Homo sapiens: one gene and its partners. The main gene of each other region encodes a partner of the protein of the gene in region 3 in a complex. Each region holds a gene or a part of one and is shown on either strand. Other genes may lie near its edges.

What was found.
Region 1: POLR3G (region 3) and POLR3D share a complex: the UniProt entries of both Homo sapiens proteins name them as parts of the RNA polymerase III complex.
Region 2: POLR3G (region 3) and POLR3K share a complex: the UniProt entries of both Homo sapiens proteins name them as parts of the RNA polymerase III complex.
Region 4: POLR3G (region 3) and POLR3F share a complex: the UniProt entries of both Homo sapiens proteins name them as parts of the RNA polymerase III complex.

What each region holds. Positions count from the first base shown.
Region 1 is NC_000008.11:22,240,840-22,248,161, reverse strand, and holds the start of POLR3D (DNA-directed RNA polymerase III subunit RPC4), read right to left. Parts: upstream 3,030-7,322; 5' UTR 2,979-3,029; intron 2,718-2,978; 5' UTR 2,713-2,717; coding exon 2,548-2,712; intron 942-2,547; coding exon 898-941; intron 306-897; coding exon 154-305; intron 9-153; coding exon 1-8. UniProt on the Homo sapiens protein: DNA-dependent RNA polymerase catalyzes the transcription of DNA into RNA using the four ribonucleoside triphosphates as substrates.
Region 2 is NC_000016.10:45,890-50,624, forward strand, and holds the end of POLR3K (DNA-directed RNA polymerase III subunit RPC10), read right to left. Parts: intron 1,669-4,735; coding exon 1,541-1,668; 3' UTR 518-1,540; downstream 1-517. UniProt on the Homo sapiens protein: Core component of RNA polymerase III (Pol III) which synthesizes small non-coding RNAs using the four ribonucleoside triphosphates as substrates. Can mediate Pol I proofreading of the nascent RNA transcript.
Region 3 is NC_000005.10:90,491,859-90,498,891, forward strand, and holds part of POLR3G (DNA-directed RNA polymerase III subunit RPC7), read left to right. Parts: intron 1-3,818; coding exon 3,819-3,875; intron 3,876-5,797; coding exon 5,798-5,848; coding exon of another isoform or gene 5,849-5,877; intron 5,878-7,033. UniProt on the Homo sapiens protein: DNA-dependent RNA polymerase catalyzes the transcription of DNA into RNA using the four ribonucleoside triphosphates as substrates.
Region 4 is NC_000020.11:18,463,561-18,470,406, reverse strand, and holds the start of POLR3F (DNA-directed RNA polymerase III subunit RPC6), read right to left. Parts: upstream 3,018-6,846; 5' UTR 2,901-3,017; coding exon 2,839-2,900; exon of another isoform or gene 2,736-2,838; intron 1,464-2,735; coding exon 1,346-1,463; intron 1-1,345. Other genes in the region: DZANK1 (double zinc ribbon and ankyrin repeat-containing protein 1), read left to right, coding at 3,540-3,545, 5,028-5,157. UniProt on the Homo sapiens protein: DNA-dependent RNA polymerase catalyzes the transcription of DNA into RNA using the four ribonucleoside triphosphates as substrates.

The DNA of each region.
Region 1 (7,322 bases), on a different chromosome or scaffold from region 3:
CCAGTTCCCTGTGGGAAATCACCCAGGTCACTAGGGATCGATAAGGAAGATGCCCAACAGCAAGGAAAACGGAAATGGGAGTGGGGAAATTCCACTGTTCTCGCCCTTCTCTGGGGCAGTCTGAACTGAAATTCACTGATTCCTTCCTTATACCTTTTTTCTTCATCATTTCAGCTGGGCCCTGCTCAAAGATGGAGTGAGACTGGATCACTTCTGGACGGCCTCGCCCTCGTCCATGCCCCTCTCGTTGTCGGTCTCTGTCCCTTTCACGCTTCTCCTTCTTGACAGTTACTTCTTCCTTGGGCCTGGAAAAAAGAATGGATTAAGGGAAACCACTCACTCACTGTGTCTCCAAAATCTGGCCTTACTCTCCCATACCACTTCACTCCAAAACAGTGGAGAGTTTGAGCCAATATTTACACCATGAGAAGCAGAATCCAATCCTAATTCTAGCACTTTTCTCACTTCCTTGATGAGGCAGGATTTTTTCAGTTTGCTTTACTTTACCTTCTTGTCCAAAAATATAGATTTTTGTTTGCATTGGGACTGAAAGCAGGAAGGCAGAAATGCAAAGGAACTTCAGGGAAAGTGTGATACATCTTTGTTTAAACTATTGGCTCTCAACTCGGGCAACAAAGAGAATCACTCCATTCTACTGCCAGCAAGTTAAATCACAATTTCTAAAGATGGAACCCTAGACACCAGTAATTATTTATTTATTTATTTATTTTTTAAAGCTTGCAGAATCACCTAGGAGCCAGGGTTGAAAATCACTAGTGAAAAGAACTAAAGATATAAATTTAAATTTTGGAGCTACAAACCTAGTTATTTCCCCCAAAGCCCCAAATTCAGAGCAAGTAAATAAGGGGCAAGTATTCAGAAGGCCTAGCTACTTACTCTTCCTTGATCTTCCGACTGATGATATTTGGGGTGAAGGTTTTCTGAAAGCAAAATACAGGAGTCACTGATGTGTTAGGTTCTGACCCCAAAGTACAGAGGAAAATAAAAATTCCCAAAGGGCATCTTCTACAGACCAAGGCCACCACGGCTCTCGTTGGCACATTCCACAGTGCTGTCAGTTTTATAGATACACATGTGCCTGAAAAGGAGGAATGTCATAGTGTGGTAGCAGTGGAGTTACACATAGAAGGGGGCACCAAAACCCACTTTTAACCAGCAGCCTTAGGTTCTGCCTCTGAAAGAAGATCCTCTGGGACTTCTAAAAGCAAAGGAATTTCTCTGGTCTCACCTCTTCTCTTCAAACTGCTATAGAGACCAGTCAGTATCATGGGGGAACAGCTCTAGCAGCAAGGCCTAAGTAGGGAAGGCCATAGATCTGCCAACACTTTCAATCAGGTGACTATGGACTGTCACCACAATTTTCCAAGGCAAAGTTAGGTTTTTAAAAACTGCTTTATGGCTGGGCGTTGTGGCTCATGCCTGTAATCCCAGCACTTTGGGAGGCCAAGGTGGGTGGATCACGAGGTCAGGAGTTCAAGATCAGCCTGGCCAAGATGGTGAAACCCGTCTCTACTAAAAACTACAAAAAGTAGCTGGGCGCGGTGGCGGGCCCCTGTAATCCCAGCTACTCGGGAGGCTGAGGCAGGAGAATCGCTTGAACCCGGGAGGCGGAGGTTGCAGTGAGCTGAGATGGTGCCTCTGCACTCCAGCCTGGGCGACAGAAAGAGATTCCCTTAAAAACAAAACAAAAAACCAAAAAACCGCTTTATTCGGCCAGGAGCGGTGGCTCACACCTGTAATCCCAGCACCTTGGGAGGTCGAGGCAGGCGGGCGGATCACGAGGTCAGGGGTTCAAGAACAGCCTGGCCAACATGGCAAAACCCTGTGTCTACTAAAAATACAAAAATCAGCTGGGCATGGTGGCGGGCGCCTGTAATCCCAGCTACTCAGGAGGATGAGGCAGGAGAATCGCTCAAACCTGGGAGGCAGAGGTTGCAGTGAGCTGAGATCGTGCCATTGCACTCCAGCCTGGGGGACAACGGCGAGACTTCCTCTCAAAAAAAACCAAAACCAAAACCAAAACCTGCTTTGTTCTTCTGTCATCCTGACCCCACCCCTTTCTGGGCTACTCTTGACATCCACAGTCATATACACATGGGAGAGGCCACAGAGCCTCGAATGCCATACCTAGGATTCATCATACTCTAGATAAAAAGTTTGCACACAGAGATGGTGAATTCTGAACCCTCTAAGACTGCGAAGTTTATGCCTGTCTGGCTTTCATGGGTTTCTTAAAGATGTCCAAACACACAATAAAAGTAAATAAACACTGTTCAAATTGCTTTTGAACGACTTTAACTTATTAGGATTCTCTGCCCTTCAACCACCTCTGGGAGTCATTTCAACATCTTGTACTCAGTACCTAGATTTGAAGGTAGGACAGACTCCCTAGAATTTAAAGAGGGGTAGGCTTGAGAGGCCCAACGACAGTCCTGACACACAGTAGGTCCTACACAAACATTAGTTGAATCCTGGGGCTTGGAATTCAAGGTAGTTGAGTTTCTTTAGAAACGCGCCGTTGGGTACCTTCTTGACTCCCCCGAGGGTGAGGTCCCTGGAACGGATGGAGGGAAGGCGGCCGGGGGTGAGGGGAGGCGCCGGCCGCCGCCCGATGAGCCCCCGGGCCCCAGTCAGGAGAGGTCGGGGCCCTCCCGGCGTGCTGGGCTCGCCGGCGGCGTTTCCTTCCGACATGTTGCCTGGGAGAGAAGGGGCGACGAGATCACCAGAGGGGACTGACACGCGGACCCTGGCGGAACCCCACCCCCTTGCTTTCCGGTCCCCCAGTCGGTGCGTCCCTCCAGTGGCCTCTCAGCTCCTCCCCTCCCACGTGGCGAGACTCCCGGGACCACCCAGGTGAGAGCCTTTGGCTCGCGACACGCCCTCTCCAGGAACCCCGCCCAGGAACCAGACAGGGACGCACCCGGGCCGCGGCTCCACACCGCGCGTCACAACCTCACCTGCAACGCGACCAGCCGCCAGCCTTCGGTCTCCGCGCCGGGCGGAAGTCTGCGTGGCAGGGCCTGGGCGCCGCCATCTTGGCGCGGGGCGGAAGTGACGTTAGGGGGGCGGGACTGGGCCACAGTATTTATCAGGCGGCGCTTCGCTCCCCTCCGCCTTCTCTTCCCGGTTCTTCCCGGAGTCGGGAAAAGCTGGGTTGAGAGGGCGAAAAAGGATGAGGTGACTGGTCTGGGCTACGCTATGCTGCGGCGCTCGGGGGTCTTGGCCTCCGGGCGGTGGCGTGGAGGCGCCAAGATCAGGGTCCCGGGTTTTGTCGGCCACCACGCCGCAATGTGAGGATTCGCCTCGGCGGAGCCCCTGGGAGCTTCGGGGTAGCTGCTCGGGATGGGGCGAGGGGCGCGGCGCGGCGCAGAGAGTGAGACCTGGACTTAAGAGTCGGGGAGTCCTGGGCCACACCGAGCCCTGTCTGCGGGTTCTCCATGGTGACCTTGGAGTGGTCATTACCTCCGGGCAGCGACCTCGCCCACTTTCGGGGACCCCTTCCCTGTGCTCCTGGTGGAGTCCTGGGGTGAGGCTGTGGGGGCAGCTTGGAACAGCCGCAGTGGACCAACCGGTGCCCAGTCATACCCGCTTCTGATCACGAAGGCGGTGGCCCTCGTGTGCGCTCTTGGTCAAAGCCTGGAGGGAATTGGAATACCAAGTTTGCTCTACTGCTGGAGGAATTTAAAGAACTTTTGTTGACTCCAGCGTTTGTGATTTAACATAAAAGGTGTCATTTAATGTTATCCCCCATCCCCCAGACCGTATAAAAACCATGTAACAATATTATGGGGAGTTTGAGGAAAGGAAATCATTTCTACCAGAATGCCACGTAGAGTACTACTATTAAAAATTTTGTAATGTATCTAGTAGTCTTCACAGAGTTGTCGTATCACAATTTCGTGTCCTTTTTCTTTTCTTTTCTTTCTTTTTTTTTTTTTTGAGACGAGGTTTCTCTCTGTTGCCCAGACGGGAGTGCAGTGGTGCGATCAACACACCGCAACCTCTGCCTCCCAGGCTCAAGCCATGCTTCCACCTCAGCCTCCTGAGTAGCTGGGACTACAAGTGCATGCCACCACGCCCGGCTAATTTTTTCTTTTTCTTTTTTTTTTTTTTTTTTTTTTTGTATTTTTCGTAGAGACGGGGTTTCACTATGTTGCCCAGGCTGGTCTTGAACTCCTGAGGTCAAGTGATCCCACCCGCTTCGGCCTCCCAATGTGCTGGGATTACAGGCATCAGCCACCACGCCTGGCCTGTATCCTCCTTTTTCAAATAACATTTCTCTGTTGCGACATCAAAGACTGCGTAGTTCTCCAGTGGCTGTATCATGATTTAAGTATTTCCCTGATTGTTTCTTTTTTCCCTGTTTTAAATAATGCTGCAGTGAATGTCTGGTACATTTGACTTGCTTTTTTTCGATTTTGTTTTTGTTTTTGTTTTCTTTTGGATTATATTCCCGGGATAGATTTCCCGTCCTGGGATAACTGGCCAAAAGAAGATTTTTTTTTAAGTAAATATTTGCGATAGGCACGGTGGCTTAGGCTTGTAATCCCAGTGCTTTGGGAGGCGGAGGTGGGAGGATCGCTTGAAAGGCTCGGCAGTTGGAGATTTCAGTAAGCTATGATCCAGCCCTTGCATTCCAGCCTGGGTGACACAGCAAGACCCTATCTCTAAAAACATTTTTTAAATTAAACTTTTTATTTTGAGAACATTGTAGGTTCATGTAGAGTGGTAAGAAATAATGTAGAGAGATCCCAAGTACTGTTTACTCGTTTTCCCCCAGTAGTAACCTCTTGCCACCAGAATATTGACATTGGTACAGTTAAGATACAAGAAGTTTCCATCACCACAAGGATCCCTCTAGTTGCCCTTTTATAGCCACACCTCCCTCCCCCCACCTCCTCCCACCACTAATCTGTTCTCCATTTCTGCCATTTTGTTATTTCAAAAGTGTTACATAAATGGAATCATACAGTATGTGACTTCTTGGGATTGCTTTTTTCACTCGGCATTGTTCCCCGCAGATCATCCAAGTTGTGTGTATCAATAGTTCGTTCCATTTTATTGCAGAGTATTCATGGTTTGTTTAACCATTCACCCTTTGAAAGACATCTGGTGGTTTTCCGTTTGGGGTTATTATGGATAAAGCTGCTGTGAAAATACATGTACAAGGTTTTGTGTGAACGTAAATTTTTATTTCTCTGGGATAATTGCCCATGAGTGCAATCATTGGGTCATATGGTAGTTGTATCTTAGTTTTATAAGAAACTGCCAAGCTGCTTTCCACAGGGGCTGTACCATTTTGTACATGCACATTTTATGGTTCTTCATTCATATTGCTAAATTGCTTTCAAAAAGGATTGTGTGGCCGGGCGTGGTGGCTCACGCCAGTAATGCCAGCACTTTGGAAGGCCGAGGTGGGCAGATCACTTGAGGTCAGGAGTTCCAGACCAGCCTTGCCAACATGGTGAAATACTGTCTCTACTAAAAATACAAAAATTAGCTGGGCGTGATGGCACACGCCCATAATCCCAGCTACTCAGGAGGCTGGGGCACAAGAATCGCTTGAACCACAGAGGCGGAGGTTGCAGTGAGCTGAGATCACGCCATTGCAGTCCAACCTGGGTGACAGAGGGAGACTGTCTCAAAACAACAAAAACAAAAAAAACCCCACAAAAAAACAAGATTGTGCTGAAATGCATCAACACTAAGAATGTGTGTATATACAATAATCAAACGTATATACACACACACACTATATACACACACACACATTGTGGGCTTTTGAAGGACTCCTGGGTGAGGCTGTGTGGGCAGCCTTGGAACAGCCACATTGGATCAACCGGTGCCCAGTCCCACCCTTCCTGGGCTCACAGCAGTGACCCTCATGTGCACTTTTGGTCAAACCTGGAAGGAATCTGAATACCAAGTTTGCTCTACCGTTGGAATTTAAAGAACTTTTATTGGCCAGGTGTGGTAGCTCACACCTGTAGTCCCAGCACTTTGGGAGGCTGAGGTGGGTGGATCACCTGAGGTCAGGAGTTCAAGACCAGCCTGGCCAACATGGTGAAACCCTGTCTCTACTAAAAGTACAAAAATTAGCCAGGCCTGGTGGCGGGCATCTGTAATCCCAGCTACTCGGGAGGTTGAGGCAGGAGAATCACTTGAACCTGGGAGAAGGAGGTTGCAGTGAGCCAAGATTGCGCCATTGCACTCCAGCCTGGGCAACAAGAGCGAAACTCTGTGTCAAAAAAAAAAAAAAAAAAAGAGCCGGGCACAGTGGCTCACGCCTGTAATCCCAGCACTTTGGGAGGCCAAGGTGGGCGGAACACGAGGTCAGGAGTTCAAGACTAGCCTGACCAACATGGTGAAAACCCGTCTCTACTAAAAATACAAAAATTAGCCTAGCGTGGTGGCATGTGCCTGTAGTCCCAGCTACTTGGGAGGCTGAGGCAGGAGAATAGCTTGAATCCGGGAGGCGGAGGTTGCAGATAGCTGAGATTGCGCTGGAGTGTAGACTCCAGCCTGGGAGACAGAGCAAGATTCCGTCTCAAAAAAAAACAACAAAAAACAACTTTTATTGACTCCGAAATTAATGTGTGTGTAAACACACACACACACACACACACACACACACAGAGAGAGAGGTAGTATATAAGAATATATAATTTTAGGGCTTGGTGGCACCCACCTGTAGTCCCAGCTACTTGGGAGGCTGAGGAGAGAGGATCGATTGAGCCCAGGAGTCAAAGGCTGCAGTGAGCCTTGATTGTGCTACTGCAGTCCAGCTTGGGAGACAGAGGAGACCTTGTCTCAAAAAAACAAAAAAGAGAATATATAATTTTTTGGCCACATCCTTTTGAGTATTGGCTTTTAAAATTTAGAACTTTGTTTGCCAATTTACTAATATATTAATATTTTGTTATGTTGTTTTCTAAACAGATCCTTTTCAACTTCTTTCTTCATGTTGATTTTACAATAATCAAACCAAACCAATACCCTTTTCCTGTTCCCTACAGAGCTACACGCAGCAGCCCTTAGCTTCTAATTAGAGCACTGGATGAAATAGCTTTGATTTCATTCTGTTGGGCTTTGAAGTTCACCAGGTAGTAGCTTTTTTAGTTTTTTTTTTTTTTTTTGAGACGGAGTCTCGCTTTGTCGCCCAGGCTGGAGTGCAGTGGTGCAATCTCGGCTCACTGCAAGCTCCACCTCCCAGGTTCATGCCATTCTCCCGCCTCAGCCTCCTGAGTAGCTGGGACTACAGGTGCTCGCCACCATGCCTGCCTAATTTTTTGTATTTTTAG
Region 2 (4,735 bases), on a different chromosome or scaffold from region 3:
CAACATTTGTGGCTGCAAGAGTTCAGGACTTAACTAGACTATTAAAAATAAAGTGGAAATTGCGTACATCCTACAGGCCACAGAGCTCAAGTACAGTGCACGAACCAGACACTCAAACAGCTGCTGAAAAAATTTTGTCAAGAAACTCATCTAAAATAAGATCGGGTCTCGCCCATGGTCCTCCTCCAAGTCAGGTACACCCCCACCAAACAAACTGGGTATTCGTCCCGTGAAATATTGTTCAGAAGGCTGCCCCCAATCATTAATCAAATTAGAGGGGATTTAAAAGAGTTAGGAGAGCTAACCCTTAGAAGACAGATGCACTCCTAAAGGAGTGACAATGCAAGAGATGCATGGCTAAGTATTAAAAAAAAAAAAAATGCCTATAAGTCTAACAGACCCAGTACACCCTTTCAAACCTAGGGTCTGTGTTTAGGTTAAAAAATAAAATCCAACCACTCTAGGACCCATATAGGATAGGCCCCATATTGTGATCAGGAACTGATCAACATGTTCAAACAATAAGAAAATAGTCATATTAAATGTAAAGATTGGTGGGACACAGTGGCTCACGCCTGTAATCCCAGCACTTTAGGAGGCCGAGGCAGACAGATTATCTGAGGTCAGGAGTTGGAGACCAGCCCGACCAACATGGAGAAACCCCATCTCTACTAAAAATGCAAAATTACCCAGGTGTGGTGGTGCATGCCTGTAGTCCCAGCTGCTTGGGAGGCTGAGACAGGAGAATCCCTTGAACCCGGAAGGCAGAGGTTGCAGTGAGCTGAATTCGTACCACTGCACTCCAGCCTGGGCGACAGAACAAGACTCTGTCTTAAATAAATAAATAAATAAATAAAATAAATAAATAAATAAATAGTATCTTATACATTTAAAGCAACCCGAGGAAGCAAATCAGGGGAGGTTCAAAAAAATGAATAAGGGAGTAAGAATAGGAATAAAGAAAGAAATTGAAATCCCGGTGATTAACATTTTCGTAGCCTGTTCAAATGTAAGTATGTAGTCTATTCTGGGATCACTGTGATTTGGGGTTTGCTTTCTACCTCTTAAGCTATTTAAAACACTGAGAAGGCAATATTCCAACTTTCATTTAAATGAAATATTCAGAATTTTGATTAAAATAAATAATAAATTACACAAGTTTACAAGTAACAGTTAAATATTTAGGGACATGTACTAAGTTTTACAAACAGTACAAATATTTAAGAGTGTTGATTGGGAGTAAGGGAATGTCAACTGCCAATAAAGTGGAAGATGAAAGAATAGGACTTTACACAGAGCATATTTAGTTATGGGTCTCTGTCTCCTCCCCACACAGAAAAACTCCCAGACATTCATGACTTCATCCACCCTGCCTGGCAGATAGGCCATATTTCCTGACCCCCTGGCTCTTCACCTCAAAAGGTTTATCTTTCCACCACACTAGCAAAGACCCTCAGGACACACAACTCATACTGCCAGCTAAGCATCTACCCCGAGGGACAAGGCAAGCACACACTAGGGCAGCTGGGCCATCCTGGCCCTAATCCCTCCAGCGGTGTCCACACTGAGCATTGCAGCACTTGTAGAAGGTGGTCATCGGCTCATCTGCAGAGCGGGTCTGAAGCTGCATGAAGTAAGCACGAGGATGTTCGCATTTGGGACACGACTCTGGCAATGAGAAAAAAGAAGTGACCACATTTAAAAAAAGATGCTACTCATGGCTGTCAAAAGTAGGTATTACTTAATATGTGGGAGGCCAAGGCGGGCGGATCACCTGAGGTCAGGAGTTCGAGACCATCCTGGCCAACATGGTGAAACCCCATCTCTACTAAAAATACAAAATTAGCCAGGCGTGGTGGCGGGCGCCTTTAATCCCAGCTACTTGGGAGGCTGAGGCAGGAGAATCGCTTGAACCCAGGAGGCAGAGATTGCAGTGAGCCAAGATCGTGCCACTGCACTCAAAAAAAAAAAAAAAAAAAAAAAGTAGGTATTACTATAATATCTTTTTTTTTTTTTTTTGAGATGGAATCTCGCAGTCACCCAGGCTGGAGTGCAGTGGGGCGATCTCAGCTCACTGCAACCTCTGCCTCCCGGGTTCATGTGATTCTCCTTGCCTCAGCCTCCCAAGTAGCTGGGATTACAGTTGCCCGCCACCACACCCGGCTAATTTTTTTGTATTTTTAGTAGAGACAGGTTTTCACTATGTTGGCCAGGCTGGTCTCGAACTCCTGACCTCATGATCCGCCCACCTCAACCTCCCAAAGTGCTGGGATTACAGGCATGAGCCACCGTGCCCAGACTACTTAATATCTTTAAAGATGGTAAAGAACCTCCCTGCTCATTTGATCCCCCTTGACAAGGGTAGATCTACAAACAGTGATGTCATTCCCACCACGCTGTAACACTAAGGGAATCTGGGAGACCTGTGACTCACACACTCTCCCCCTCCCCTCCCTGAGTCCCATGGTTCTTCTCAAATCCAGCTGAAGGCTGGTTGGAAACGTAACATGGAAGGTGACTGTTTTGGTCCATTTTGTGCTGCTGTAACAAAATGCCTAAGACTAAGTAATGGTTAGATGGTGGAAGAGTTTTGAAGTAAATGCTGGGAAAAGCCTGCATTGTCAAGAATTGAGCATTAAGGGCCGGGCGCGGTGGCTCACGCCTGTAATCCCAGGACTTTGGGAGGCCAAGGCAGGCGGATCACGAGGTCAGGAGATCGAGACCATCCTGGCTAACATGGTGAAACCCCGTCTCTACTAAAAACACAAAAAATTAGCCAGGCGTGGTGTCGGGTGCCTGCAGTCCCAGCTACTCGGGAGGCTGAGGCAAGAGAATTGCGTGAACCCGGGAGGCGGAGCTTGCAGTGAGCCGAGATCGCGCCACTGCACTCCAGCTTGGGCAACAGAGTGAGACTCCATCTCAAAAAAAAAAAAGAATTGAGCATTAAGGGCGATTCTGGTGTGGGCTGAAAAGAAGAGAAGAGGCCGGGTATGGTGGCTCTTGCCTGTAATCCCAGAACTTTGGGAGGCTGAGGCAGGTGGATCACGAGGTCGGGAGGTCAAGACCAGCCTAGCCAAGATGGTGAAACCCCGTCTCTACCAAAACTACAAAAATTAGCCGGGCGTGGTGGCAGGTGCCTGTAATCCCAGCTACTAGGGAGGCTGAGGCAGGAGAATCGCTTGAACCCGGGCAGCATAGGTTTGCAGTGAGCAGAGATCGTGCCACTACACTCCAGCCTGGGCAAAAGAGACTCCATCTCAAAAAAAAAGCCAGGCACAGTGGCTCAGGCCTGTAATCCCAGCACTTTGGGAGGCTGAGGCCAACAGATCACCTGAGGTCGGGAGTTCGTGACCAGCCTTATCAACATGGAGAAACCCCATCTCTACTAAAAATACAAAATTAGCTGGGCGTGGTGGCGCATGCCTGTAATCCCAGCTACTCATGAGGCCGAGGAAGGAGAATCACTTGAACCTGGGAAGTGGAGGTTGCAGTGAGCCGAGATCACACCATTGCACTCTTCAAAGCGATTTCACTTTGAGAAACTTATCCTACACCTGACAGAAATGGCTTCAAACACTCTATTTCTGACATTAGGTAAAAAGATTTTTTTTTTTTAGACAGTCTCACTCAGGCTGGAGTGGCATGGTCTCGGCTCACTGCAACCTCCGCCTCCTGGTTCAAGCAATTCTCCTGCCTCAGCCTCCTGAGTAGCTAGGACTACAGGCACGCGCCACTGAGCCTGGCTAATTTGTTTTTTTTTTTTTTTTGAGACGGAGTTTTGCTCCTGTTGCCTGGGCTAGAGTGCAATAGCACGATCTCAGCTCACTACAACCTCCGCCTCACAGGTTCAAGCGATTCTCCTGTCTCAGCCTCCCAAGTAGCTGGGATTACAGGCAGGCACCACCACGCTCAGCTACTTTTTGTATTTTTAGTGGAGACGGGGTTTCACCATGTTGGCCAGGATGGTCTCGATGTCTTGACCTCGTGATCCGCCCACATTGGCCTCCCAAAATGCTGGGATTATAGGTGTGAGCCACCGTGCCAGCTGCTAACTTTTTCACATAGCAGATTTGTATGTTCTTTTTTTTGACAGAGTTTCGTTCTTGTTGCCCAGGCTGGAGTGCAATGATGCAATCTTGGCTCACTGCAACCTCCACTTCCCGGGTTCAAGCGATTCTCCTGTCTCAGCCTCCCGAGTAGCTGGGATTACAGGTGCTGCCACCACGCCTGGCTAATTTTTTGTATTTTTAGCAGAAATGGGGTTTCACCGTGTTAGCCAGGCTGGTCTCGAACTCCTGACCTCAGGTGATCCGCCCGCCTCGGCCTCCCAAAGTGCTGAGATTGCAGGCGTGAGCCACCACACCCAGCCTATATGTTCTTTTATAGGGGGAAAACCACAGTACTAACCATCAGTTATCTCTCTCACCTCTCAATATAACTTACATTTACGTCTTCCCCTTTCCTCTCCTGGCCACATCTATGTCTACCAGACATGCAATAAACATGTATTTTACCCAATCTGCAGTTTAATGCTCACTGGTATTAACTTCTAAAAATCTATATTAGAAGCGTGTATTAGTCCGTTCTCACACTGCTATGAATACCTGAGACTGGGTAATTTATATAGACAAAAGGGGTTTTGTTTGTTTTGAGACAGAGTCTCACTCTTGTCACCGAGGCTAGAGTGCAGTAGTGTGATCTCGGCTCACTGCAACCTCTGCCTCCTGGGTTCAAG
Region 3 (7,033 bases):
ATTCAAATAAATTATCACTATTATGTCATCATATAGTTTTCCTATGGTGTTGTCCAAAGCATTACATCTGTTTTTTAAGAAGTTATAAAGTCTTCAGAGACTCTTATGTTTGTAGTTGCTCTGTTTTAATTTTCATTTAATACAATTGAAAATTTCAAAAATTTTTAATTTTTTGCTCATAATGTCTAAAATTGACAGAAAAACATGTTCCACAATTCTTAGACGAATCAGAAGTCAAATGCAAAGAGATAGATAGCTCTCTGGATGCTCATGATGATGATGAAATTGATTGTATAAGCAAAATCTCAGACTGTGAGTCTTCAGATGACAGTGTCTTCAATGAATTTTCTCAAATTCAAGAATCAATGAGTAAACACTGTATCTCCAAGAATTAAAAAGGAATTATGGTGGCCTTCTACAGTCAATCTTTGAAAAAGAACTCATCATGTAATACTTTGTAACAAAAACCTGGAACATCCTGTTTGCTAAAATGAGACGATCATTTTTGTTCTATGATATTTGTGCACCAAAATTAATTTGATGTGTTTTGTAACTGACAAATGCTGAACATAAAGGCAAAGACAACAATGATTGAAAGGAAATTGATTATATAGACATGAAATTGTTTTCTGGATTGATTGTGTTAACTGGTGATTATAAATTTAATAATGAAAATATTTTGCAAGTATAGAGCAAAGAAGATGGCTGGGCCATCCTCTCTTCAATAGAAGTATGAGACATCAGCCGGGCGCAGTGGCTCACCCCTGTAATCCCAGCACTTTGGGAGTCTGAGGCAGGTGGATCACGAGGTCAGGAGATCAAGACCATCCTGGCTAACATGGTGAAACCCCGTCTCTACTAAAAATACAAAAAATTAGCCAGGCGTGGTAGAGGGCACCTGTACTCCCAGCTACTCGGGAGACTGAGGCAGGAGAGTGGAGTCAACCTGGGAGTGAGCCGAGATTGTGCCACTGCACTCCAGCCTGGGCAAGACTCCGCCTCAAAAAAAAAAAAAAAAAGTATGAGACATCAAAGTTTTTTAAAGTATTGCATTTTGGATATGTAAGTACAAGAAGAAGAATTGGAAGTAGTGATAAGCTAGATTCTACTAGAAATGCATTTATAATCTGAAATTATTTAGATGATACACATATGAGAAAACCAGAGGAAATTATAAGTTAGAACCTATTAAAGATGTCTTTGGAATCTGGGATCAGGACGTACAGAAGGCATATATTCTAGGTTTGTATGTGGCAGCCGATGCACAGAAAACTGCATTCAAATGACTTTGCCCATTTTGGTTAAATTTACCTTCAAAATCAGTAAAACATGTAATATAAATTTGGATTTGCTATACTTAATTGCTTAGTAAAATCTCCAATAACTTTATTTATTTATTTTTATTTGAGACAGGATCTCGTTCTGTCACCCAGGCTGGAATGCAGTGGCATAATCTCAGCTCACTGCAGCCTCCACCTCCCAGGCTCAAGTGATCCTCCCACCGTAGCCTCCCAAGTAGCTGGAACCACTGGCATGAGCTACCATGCCCAGCTAATTTTTGCATTTTTTGTAGAGATGGGGGTTTCACCATGTTGCTCAGGCTGGTCTCGAACTCCTGGACTCAAGGGATCCAGCTGCCTTGGCCTCCCAAAGTGCTGGGATTACATCCTGAGCCACTGTGTTGGGCCTAGTTTTATTGATTTTTAAGTAACAGCTTTACTGAGACATAATCCACTATATAAAATTTACTTTTTAAAGTGTACAATTCAGTGACTTTTAATATAGCCACAGAGTTGTGCAATCAACACCACTATTTAATTTTTTTTTTTTTTTTTTTTTTTTTTTTTTTTTTTTTTTTTTTTTTTTGAGACAAGAGTCTTGCTCTGTTACCCAGGCTGGAATGCAGTGGCATTATCTCAGTTCACTGCAACCTCCACCTCCTGGATTCAAGTGATTCTCTTGCCGCAGTCTCCCAAGTAGCTGGGATTACAGGCACGTGCCACCACACATGGCTAATTTTTTTGTGTTTTTAGTATAGATGGGGTTTCACCATGTTGGCCCGGCTGGTCTTGAACTCCTGACCTATTAGCAATCTACCTGCCCCAGCCTCTCAAAGTGCTGGGATTACAGGTGTGAGCCACTGTGCCCAGCCACTATCTAATTTTTTAGATGCTTTTCATCATCTAGAAAAGAAATTCTGTACCCTTTAGTAGTCATTCCCTACTCTCCCTCCTTCCAACCCATGGCACCAGAAATCTGCTTTCTGTCTCTAGAGATTCCATGTCATATAAATGGAATGATGTAACATGTGTCTTTGGCTTCTTTCACTTGCCATAATGTTTTCAAGGTTCATTCATGGCTTAGTACATATGAGTGCTTCATTCCTTTTTATGGCTGAATAATATTCCACTGTATGGATATATGCCACATTTTGTTTATCCACTCATCACTTGATGGGCATTTGGGTCAGTTCACTTTTGGGATTACATGAGTTATCTTGTCATAAACATTCATGTACATGTTTTATGTGAAGACATGTTTTCATTTATATTGGGTATATACATAGGATCATATGGTAACTCTGTATTTCACATTTTGAGGAACTGCCAAACAGTTTTCTAAAGTGGCCACCCGATTTTACATTCCCATCAATAATGTATGAGAGTTCCAATTTTTCCATATCCTTGCCAACATTTCTTATTTTTTTTTTATTCTAGCCATCCTAGTGGTTGTAACACAGTATCTCATTGTGGTTTTGATTTGAATTTCCGTAATGATTGGTGATGTTGGACATCTTTTCATGCTTTTTGTCCATTTTTGTATCTTCTTTAGAGAATTGTCTATTCAAATCCTTTACCTCTTTTTAATTGGGTTCCAATAATTGGTTTTCAATATCTGTTCTTTTATCTGTTATCTTTTTTATTTATTCTCTGTATTTCATTATTTGAAATTAACTTAAAAATATTTTAAAATATAAAAAGTGGTCTACTGTACCCAGAGAAAAAGGGTAAAAACTGTTTTTTTCCGGTATACTGAGGGTTAAAATTATTTAAAATATGGAAACTGTTTTGGAGAAAATTCTTAAAAAGAAGTCATTGTGTTACAAATTCTAGGAATCTCTCATTTGTGCTGACTTCGTTTTATAGATTAAAAACTTGGCAAGATTAGTTAAAACATTTTACCTGAAGTCAAACAGTTAAAATACCTAGAAAAACCTGATCTCTTGGTCTCTGATCTACTACTTATTTTGGTTATCTTTCTCTAATACGTGGTTGTATTATTTGGAAGCATATACTTGACATAGAAGAAAAATCAGTATATATTTGGTCCTTGATTTTTATCCATTCATCTTTAGTATTACCTTCCCTTTTTCATGCCTAACTCCTGAACTACTTTTTATGATGAACATGGCTTCAAGCTTTTGTGTGATAGTGTTGCTTTCCAACTTGTGCTGCTGGAAAAGAGTTTGTGCCCTCCTTAAGGGTGTTTCTTGTGATAAGGTGGACTAGTCTGAATCAAGAGCCGCAGTTATGGCTTTACTGGTTTTGGCAAGCTCAGAGGGTTCCTGCAGAGTTTTCAGCAATTGGCATGTAGGGCTTGCAGCTTGCTCATTTATGCCTCAGATCAGTAACCCCTCACCAAGTCCATCCTTGCCTACCCCTACCCTTTTTCCCATTCTCTTATGTACAAAGGTGGGAAACTCCCTGTATGTAAAATTAAAAATGTTGTCTGTTGTTTTCAATAATCTTAAAGGAATGGCTTAAGTTCAGGGTTACTGTTGATTTTCCTAATGAGTTCTTTATTCTTTTTTCCCCTAGATATTGAAAGGTATAGTAAAAGATACATGAAGGTATACAAGGAAGAATGGATACCAGGTAACTACAAAACACACAATATGAAAACAGTTTTTAAAGGCTGTCTCTCTCACCTCATGTTTTTTTTTTAGAATAAGTTTTCTATTTTTACCATAGGAAAACTGAGTCTGGTTCTTTTATTGTGATTAATTAGTAATCTGTTAGAAACTAAGGTGAAAAGATTTTTATGCTAAAACAAGGAAGAGTTGAAGTGCTTTTGTGGAAGTTCTTAAAATATATATATATGTATATTTTATTTTATTTTATTTATTTTTTTGAGATGGAGTCTTGCTCTGTCGCCCAGGCTGGAGTGCAGTGGCACGATATCGGCTCATTGCAAGCTCCACCTCCAGGGATCATGCCATTCTCCTGCCTCAGCCTCCCGAGTAGCTGGGACTACAGGCCCCCGCCACCATGCCCAGCTAATTTTTTGTATTTTTAGTAGAGACGGAGTTTCACCGTGTTCGCCAGAATGGTCTTGATCTGACCTCATGATCCGCCCGCCTCAGCCTCCCAAAGTGCTGGGATTACAGGCATGAGCCAACACCCCCCACCCTTAATATACATTTTTTACAAAAATAGGACAGGCCAAACAAACCCTTTGAATTTTCCAATTTAATTAGCCACAATCACAATTTTAATTTGTAATACCAGAAAGCACAAATACTATGCTCCTGAGCAATTTTAGAGCATTTGAAGAGAAAGCAAAAATCTCGTTTTAAAGATATTTTAAGCCAAGCTCATGGATCTTCCTTTCTTTTAAGCAGACATAGACTAGTTTTAGTTGTTAGGCTTCTTCAAAAGAACCATATCCAAAAAGAAGCTTTACCTTGGGTATGGACAAGTTAGAAGGGTCTGTAAAGGAGATCTCATCCCACTCATTCATTTTGCAAATAAAAACAGTTGTCATAGAAATAAAGTGACCTGTCAGGCCATGTGGCCAATACTGTTAGAACCCAGGTCTTCTCATTTTAATTCACATTCTTTTTATGTCTCTGTCCTTGGTCTTTTATGGAAACTCCCCTTATGTAAAAACATAGATGGCATTAACAGCCTTATCATTTTCACAGATTATAGTACTATCTTTTCAGTGTTGGTAAGGTTGGGGCACCCTGGAAACAACTTAGGTCTCTCATTTCTTCCGTTTCATTAGTATTCATCTCTCAAATGATTCTCTACATATTCCGTCATGATCTAAAATGAATAGCTTATAAAAACTAAAATATATTCAAAGCAAAATTTATTTTTCAGGTAAAATGACTTGAGATTTAAATGCTTTGTAAAAATGCTCCAAATTTTCTTTAAAAGCAGGCAATATTTTTAAATCAACTTTTATGTTGCTTCCATTTCCTGTTTAACTCTATGCTTAAAAATTAAAAGAAAGTGACACATTAGAGGAATTATTTAGCTAATACAAGCAAAATTATTTATTGGAGGAGATTTGTTTTTGACAGCTATTTATATTTTTAATTTTAAAGTTTTCAGATATTACAATTGTTTATTTCATTTTGCATGTTTTGGGATTATGGTAACATCCTTTTGAAAAAAAAAATTTGTTGCATAAGAAATATATCAACTACAGAATATATCAACTACAGAAAACTTATGAAATATAAAGTGGTCAAATAAATATAAATAATACTTAAGAAAAACTGTCATAATTCCAACACCCACAAATAATTACCATAAGGTTTCCTTCACCAAAAATTTTATAGCACTATTTCAGAGCTATTGTAATAAATTTTCTTTATAGGAGAAAATATATCATTGTCTGTAATATTTGGATTTGGTTTTTATATGTTTCAAGCTAAATTTGTAAAGTCAGATACTAAGGCACTTTATTGTCATTTTCTGGACAACTGTTGTGTCCTTCAAATAGTTATGTTCAATGCCACAAATTCCTAGAGGAAACTGCAATTTTTTATTTTTTATTTTATGTACAGATTGGAGAAGACTTCCAAGAGAGATGATGCCAAGAAATAAATGTAAAAAAGGTACATTGACTAATATAATAGTAATTCAGGTAGGAAAAGGTTATTTCTTACATTCTGTTAATATGGATTTGTCAACCCAAAGTTATACTCACTGTTCTTAATGCTTTTCTTATTTTGAGCCAGACAAGGGATCTCATGCCTGTAATCTCAGCATTTCGGGAGGCTGAGGTGGGAGGATCACTTGAGCCCAGGAGTTTGAGACCAGCCTGGGCAACATAGTGAGAACTTGTCTCTACAAAAAGTTAAAACAAGTATTAGCCAAGTGTGGTGGCATGCACCTGTAGTCCCAGCTACTTGGGGGTCTAAGGTGGGAGGATCACTTGAGCCAAAGAGGCAGAGGCTGCAATTAGCCTAAACTGCACCACTGCACTTAAGCCTGGAAGACAGAGCAAGACCCTGACACTCTGTCTAGGACACTGACTCTCTCCCTCTCTCTGTCCCCCCATGTATGTGTGTGTGTGTGTATATATATGCATTATAACTATTTTGCTAAAGCTTGTTTTTTGTTGTTTGTCTTTTGGGTGTTTTTTTTCTTAGTTGTTGCCTTTTCTTTGTGTATGTCTTATTTTTTAATTTTTAAATGTTTTATCTTTTTTTAAATTTCTGTGTTTATTTTAGATACAGGGGTACATGTGCAGGTTTGTTACATTGGTATATTGCACTCAGGTAGTGAGTGTACTACCTAATAGGTAGTTTGTTAACTCACTCCACCCCGTCCTCCCCTCCCGACTTTAGTAGTTCACTGTGTCTGTTGTTCCCATGTTTATGTCCATGTGTGCTCAGTGTTTAGCGCCCACTTATAAGTGAGAACATGCAATATTTGGTTTTCTGTTCCTGCATTTATTCACTTAGGATTTTCCTTTAGTTATGGAATTGTGGAGCTGCTAAGAAAGACTTTTCAATTATTGTAGACCTTTTCATTTGCATAACTGCAGATTTTTTATTATACTGGCTACATTATAAATTATTAACTAAAACATTTTAAAATTGGGAAACCAATAAAATGGAGCTTTATGTTGTATAGAAGAATGCCAAAGTGAATGTTTACAGTTTGTTTTTCTTTAGTAATTTCATTCAGTAAATAGTTATCTATTATTGCCAGACATTGTGCTGACAGGAATAAAACTGAGCAAAGTGGGAATAATCCTTGTCCTCATGGAGCTTGTAGTCAAATGGGGTAAAATC
Region 4 (6,846 bases), on a different chromosome or scaffold from region 3:
CAGAAATCATATGGCTCACAAAGCCTAAAACATATACTGTCTGGCACTTTATAGAAAAAGTTTGCCAACTCCTGAGCTAGAAAATTGATGGGAAAGGTTTAAGAAAAGATTCATCGGACCCCAAATCTCCACATCCAGAGCCCTTGGAAATCCAACAAGGCTAGTAGACTTAAAAAACAAATCAGTCATTCAGATGAGGCCTTGGCGTAGAACTCTTTAACCTAACTGCTACTAAAGCCAAACTGAAATGCTCTTAGGAAAAGGATGTTTTGGTGATGAGGGAAAGTAAGGGAGATTTAGAGCATCGGCACCACTTGGTGGGTTTTTAGACAGTCTTGCTTGTTTGTTTCTGGACAGATGGAGAATGGCTTCACTGATAAATTCCATTGCAATGTCACTGGGGGCTAAGGCTGCACTTCCTCCCCAAAGCCCAACATTCTTCATTCAACTGGACTCATTCTTGCTTCCTGAAATGCTCAGAGTGACAATGTGGAGAATGAAACCCTGATGACTGGGCTCTGTGACAACTCATAGGAAAATCGGGGGGTGGAATATTTTATGGGAAATGGCCCAACACCAGCAGTAGGAAGCAAACAGAAGGTGAGAACAGACTAGACCTATGTATGGCAGTGGCAATTAATAAATACAACAGTTATACCATAATACATTTATTTCATTTGTCTTATAACGCATAATTATTTCTTCTTTTTTCAATTCAGGTAGTTTGAGCTGTTTCCTGGTTTAGAGTCTTATCAGTCAAACCTAACACACTTTCTCGTTTTATGACTGCTGTATTAGGGTTCTCCAGAGAAAAAGAACCAATAGGATACACCTCCCTCTTGAAAGATTCATCAGAAGCTATTTGCTCTGTGATTATGGAGGCTGAGGAGTCCCATCATCTGCCCTCTGCAAGCTGGAGACCCAGGAAAGCTGGTGTTGCAGATCAAAGGGCTGAGAGCAGAGAGCTGATGGTGTAGATACCAGTCCAAGTCTGAAGGTCTGAGAACCAGGAGTGCTGAGGGCACAAGATTCATAGCCCAGCTCAAGATTGAATTCAAAGAGTGAATTCAATCTTCCTCTGCCACTTTGTTCTATTTAGGCCCTGAATGGATTGGATGATGCTCACCCAACTGGACCCATATCTACTTTACTCCGTTCACCAATTCAAAATGCTAACCTCTTTCAGAAACACCCACACAGACACTCCAATAAAATATTTAACTAGATATGTAGGAATCCTGTATCTTAGTCAAGTTGACATGAAATTAACCATCACAACTACATAATAAAAACCAGTGATAATCAGCATATCAGTAATTATGCAAAATAGTTAGATTCACCTTACCATAGACAACAACCTATTGATGGCTACTGCCCGCTGCTGGGCTTCTATATGAGGCATTTCATTCTGAATTACTTGGTCTGTGATTCCATGAGGGAACTGGTGACATAATTCTATAATCCTAGAAACAAAGGTATTAATGTTATCCTTCATGGTTACCTGTTTCAAGAGACAGTGGGGGTAAAAATACAAGTAGAATAGTTTGAAACTGTGCCTTTTTCACATTTGGCAGACAATCTGGGTTTCTGTGATGGTTTTGGATCAAAGCATGTTAGAAATTGAAGAAGATGATTTCTAAATACATGTTTACAGTATTATTGTTATTTAAGAATATTTCTTTTCCTCACTAATAAGAACTTTAAATTAGAGCAAAAGTCTAATGAAATCACAGAAAAAATATTAAAGCTGAGACTTCAGTTTTCTCGGGTGTAATAAGCATGACAAAGTTAAGCCATAAATCTGCAAGCAGGAGGCAAATGCAGATGTTTCTGGTAGGAAGCCAAAATTTGTTATGACAATTCACCATAATGGGGCCTGTTTTTGGAATTATACCTACCAAACAAAAAAAGTCAAAATCTTCACCTAGTCGACATCAACAAATGTATTATTCCTAACAGTCTGAGAAAGTTGAGTCTTTTAAAACTACGTGAAAATCTAAGAGTGGCAGTGCCTCGGTAAAATATAAAACTGGGCCGGGCGCGGTGGCTCACGCCTGTAATCCCAGCACTTTGGGAGGCCGAGGCGGGCGGATCACGAGGTCAGGAGATCGAGACCATCCCAGACAACATGGTGAAACCCCGTCTCTACTAAAACATAAAAAATTAGCTGGGCGTGGTGGCGCGAGCCTGTAGTCCCAGCTACTCGGGAGGCTAAGGCAGGGGAATCGCTTGAACCCGGGAGGCGGAGATTGCAGTGAACCGAGATCGCGCCACTGCACTCCAGCCTGGCGACAGAGCGAGACTCTGTCTCACAAACAAACAAATAAAAATAAAAGTGGCAGAGGCTTTGGGTGTCCTAAAAGTCTTGAGTTCAATACTGCACTGAAACCACCTGGCTTAATGTTACTTCGTAATCACCAACTGCGCCCTAACTCCGCCTAAACGTTTTGTCATAGACGTTCCCTTAGTGACAAGAGCGATCCTGGATCAGAACATGTATTCACAAGTGTTCTACAGGGAAAGAAAGCCGAGGGCTCCTCTCAAAGCACTGATCGCGTCAAAGTAGGAAGGCAGCACGTCATCACAACTTCCCCAAAAGTATCAGGGCAAAGCCAGCCAGCTACACAAAGTTGCAAGCTGTCAAACCCATTTTGAACTTCTTGAGTTCTGCTCTCCCAGGATGGGAAGGAACAAGTGGGTCCAGAACCCCGCAATCGTTTTTCCCGCGTGCTCACCTAACCCGCTCCGGCCACTCCCAAGGGATCCCGGAGAAGGGGTCCAGCTGCCCAAATGACTGGGCGCCTGATGGAGTGCCAAGCCGGAGCCTCACTGGTTTACCTGTTTTCTATTTCGACCGGATCCGCGTCAGGCGGCTGCACCTTCACCTTCACCTCCGCCATGAGGGCGCAGTTCCTGACGCCTGGGGGGAAAGATGCACGGAGCAGCCCGGTAGCAAGCCGGGGAACCCGGGGAACCAGTGGAGGATAGCGCTCTGCTGAGGCCGAGGGGCCTTCTTCCTCGTGTCGCAGCCGGTCCTTCCTTGCCTTTCGGCGGGAGGTGGCCAAGCTGCGCCTGCTCCGGCCCACTTACAGGCGCCGCTACAGCTTCTTATTCTTGTTTTCCAGAATGTCAATGCCCATCGGACGCACAAGCCTGGTTCCTTCATTCTGAGTTGGGAAACCAACTTTTAGCACTTGGCAACTCTGTGAAGGAATATTCTTAGATGCCTATGGGAAAGCACTGGGAAAGGAACTCCAGGCGGGTACCAGGCTCCCTGCGGAGCGGCAGGGGCCGGTCTAGTTGCTAAGAAGCTGAGTCTCCACCAATCATCTGCCCAGCACCCAGTGGGCGGGGCGCGGCTCGCCGCGTCTGTGGTAACCCGGGCGGCGGCGAAGGAGGAGGCAAGAGGCGGTGAGAGGCTGGCGACTGGGTTGGGCGCGGCAGAGATGCATTAGGGGTCCCGATCCCGGGCCCCGCGGTTAGAGGAAGAGGAGGGCGGCTAGAGGAGGGGAAGAGCTTCCCTTACTCCAGCCGAAAGGATGCAGGTGTCCTTGGCAGCCCCTGATGGGCGGGAACAACCAAACGGGATTCCGGATCCGGGCTGCGAGGGGGCGGTCCACGTTGGGAGAGTTGAGGGGTCTGGGGATCCTGTTGACTGCACGTTGCCATTTGGGCCTGGCGGATCCGCCTTTTTTCTTGATTCCCTTTGCGTGGGGCCCACTGGCCACCCCAGCTTCCTAAGGGCAGCTGCTAGTTGACGCTCGCGAATTACTTCCTCTCCTACATATTTTTTATTTAGAATTTTTCAACTACTTTTATTTTATCTGCCTTTCACTTAAATGGAAATGCGACTATGGGCAAGTCTCAAGTCCAGCCACACTCCCGTAGGAGCTATTGTTGTGCTGTCAGTATCTGTAGTTTATATTCTTGGCCCTAGATCCGGAACTATCCAACAAGGCATTAAGTTCACCCCTTAAATTTAGGTACCCCATTTTTGAGAATACAGTCTGTGACAAAGCTCAAACTGCAGACATGTTCAGATCAGCATTATTAGAACTGCAACAGGCAAAACTAAAAAGAAACTAGAAATAGCCTAAATGCCCAGCCACAAATGGATAAATAAGTACAGGGAAAACTAAATAATACAGTGAGAATGCAAGAAGTAGACTATAAAAATGGAATGAATATGTAGATTATAATTGGGCAAAATCTATGGATTATTAATGAAATTTGAAAAGGCAATACAGAGATGTAAATGGTTGTTGTGTTAAGGTGAGCGTTTTTTCCCCCTGAAACCTTCTGTGCATTAATTATGACAACCTTCCTCCCCACCCTCACCTCCAAAAAGACCAGTAAGGCTTTCATACTGGTAGTTAATTATTAATACCAGGATTTATAAATACAGTAGATGAAACGGGAGGCTTGTGTTTATTGGTCACTGTTTATATTCTTGCAAACTTCCTTTCCACTGAGAAGTAGTACTCTGCAGTCCTTCTAAAGTGTCTTTGCAGCTTTCAAATACTAGAACTGCTCTGGTGATAATGGCAAGGCTGTGAACCCGGAGCTTTCCCAAAAAAGTTAGCTCTAACTAACATTTTGTGGTACACACAGAATTACTTCTGTTCCCCTTGTATGATGACTTGCCCTGAAGCCAAGAGAGCTGACACACACCAGAGGCAGGAAAAGGCGATAATGATTTACAGGGAACTCAAGTCAGAGCGTTAGTGATAGTCTCTGTTTTGCCTTACTCATTTAATTTGTCCTTTTAAAGTAACTTCTTTCTTTTCCCCATCTCATTCATTCATGCTCCTTTCGCAGAAGTGAGGTATTTAGATAATCAAAACCCCACACAAGACCTCAACAGCAAATACAGATGAAATGTAATTATTATTTCAATTAAAAAGGGAATAATATTTGTAGTGCCATGTTAACAGTATTCTCTCGTTTTAACTAGTTTTGCTGCATTTAAATTAAGTGCTGCTCTTCAGCTTTTGTGTACATTGGAATTTATATGTATATATATATAGAGAGAGAGAGAGAGAGAGAAAATGACTGCTGGTTCAGTGTGTGTCCCTCAGATCATACCATTACGAGTGCCTCAGCCTGGAAAAGCTAACCATGAAATTGATAACAATACGCTTTTGGAAATGAAATCAGGTAAGAATCACATATGTTTGAAATTGTTTAAAATAACATTGTCATATTTCTTGTGTTATCTGGTTGCTGGTTTATCTCTTTGCCTGCTTTCTCACTCTTTGCTCAGCTTTTTGGGAAATTTGTAAAACTTCTAAAATTTGAAACAGTGCTGTACATTGATGGTTTATAGAGTGGTATACATTTAGATTAAAATGGTTAGCTTTGACCAACCTTTCATTTGTATAGTTTCAGCAATGTCTTGACTTACCTTAGCCAAGGTAAGATGTCCCGGTGCTGGCCGGGTGCGGTGGTTCACACCAGTAATCCCAGAACTTTGGCAGGCCGAGGCAGGTGGATCACTTGAGGTCAGGAGTTCAAGACCAGCCTGGCCAACATGGCAAAACTCTGTCTTACTAAAAATACAAAAATTAGCCAGACATGGTGGTGGGCACCTGTAATCCTAGCAACTCAGGAGGTTGAGGCAGGAGAATTGCTTGAACCTGGGTGATGGAGGTTGCAGTGAGCCGAGATCGCGCCAGTGCACTCCAGCCTAGGCAACAGAGCAAGACTCCGTCTCAAAAAAAAAAAAAAAAAAAAAAAAAAGTCCCGGTGCTCCCCAAACTTTTCCAATATGCTCATTATTTAGCTGGTATAATAAATTTGACCTACTGATACAGGCTTTCCAGTCAGACAGGTTGGAGACTTAATCCCTGCCTTGACAACTTCTAGTGACCTTGGGTACATTACTTAGCCTTTTTGAGTCTGTTACCTCACTGTAAGACAGGAATAATAATATCTACTTCTTAGAGCCATTGTGAGGATAAATAGGTTCGTGTATGTATGAGGTGCACAGGGTTTGGCATATAGTAATGTGAAAATAAATCTCAACTCTAACTACAGAAATAAAGCAGTGAGGGCCAGGCCTGGTGGCTCACGCCTGTAATCCCAGCACTTTGGGAGGCTGAGGCAGGTGGATCACCTGAGGTCAGGAGCTTGAGACCAGCCTCCTGTCTCTACTAAAAATACAAGATTAGCCAGGCATGGTGGCCAATGCCTGTAATCCCAGCTACTCGGGAGGCTGAGGCAGGAGAATTGCTTGAAGCCAGGAGGCGGAGGTTGCAGTGAGCCGAGATGGCGCCACTGTACTCCAGCCTGGGAGACAGAACAAGACTCCATCTCAAAAAAAAAAAAGAAAAAGAAAAAAGAAATAAAGCAGTGAATGTATATCCTGCTAATACGTATTCTTCAAAATCTTAAATATGTGTGTATATCTACACATACACATATATATACATACACATATATAATTAACATAAGGAAGGAAAGTTTCACAGGTAAAACATATGAACAAATAGATGTGTAAAAAAGACTTTGAAATTCCAATTTTTGCCTTTTTTTAACCAATTATATATTTTAATAACTGAAATGTGTACAAACTATCTGCATTTATGTTATGACCCCTGTGCTGCTTAGACCAAGAGTTCTAACTAAGCATATGTATTATTATCTGTGTTCTCCTTTAGCTTAAAAGCTGATACAATTTTTTAAACTGTCAAACCAAATTAAACATTTTAATGTATGTGCCCATAATTCTTAGGAGAAGTTGGGTGACTATTGACAAAAGATGATATGAATGGTAGGGTATCAAAATTCCCTAATATGTAAATATCAAATAAATAAATAGTTTTCACAATTCAGTAACAAAAAGAA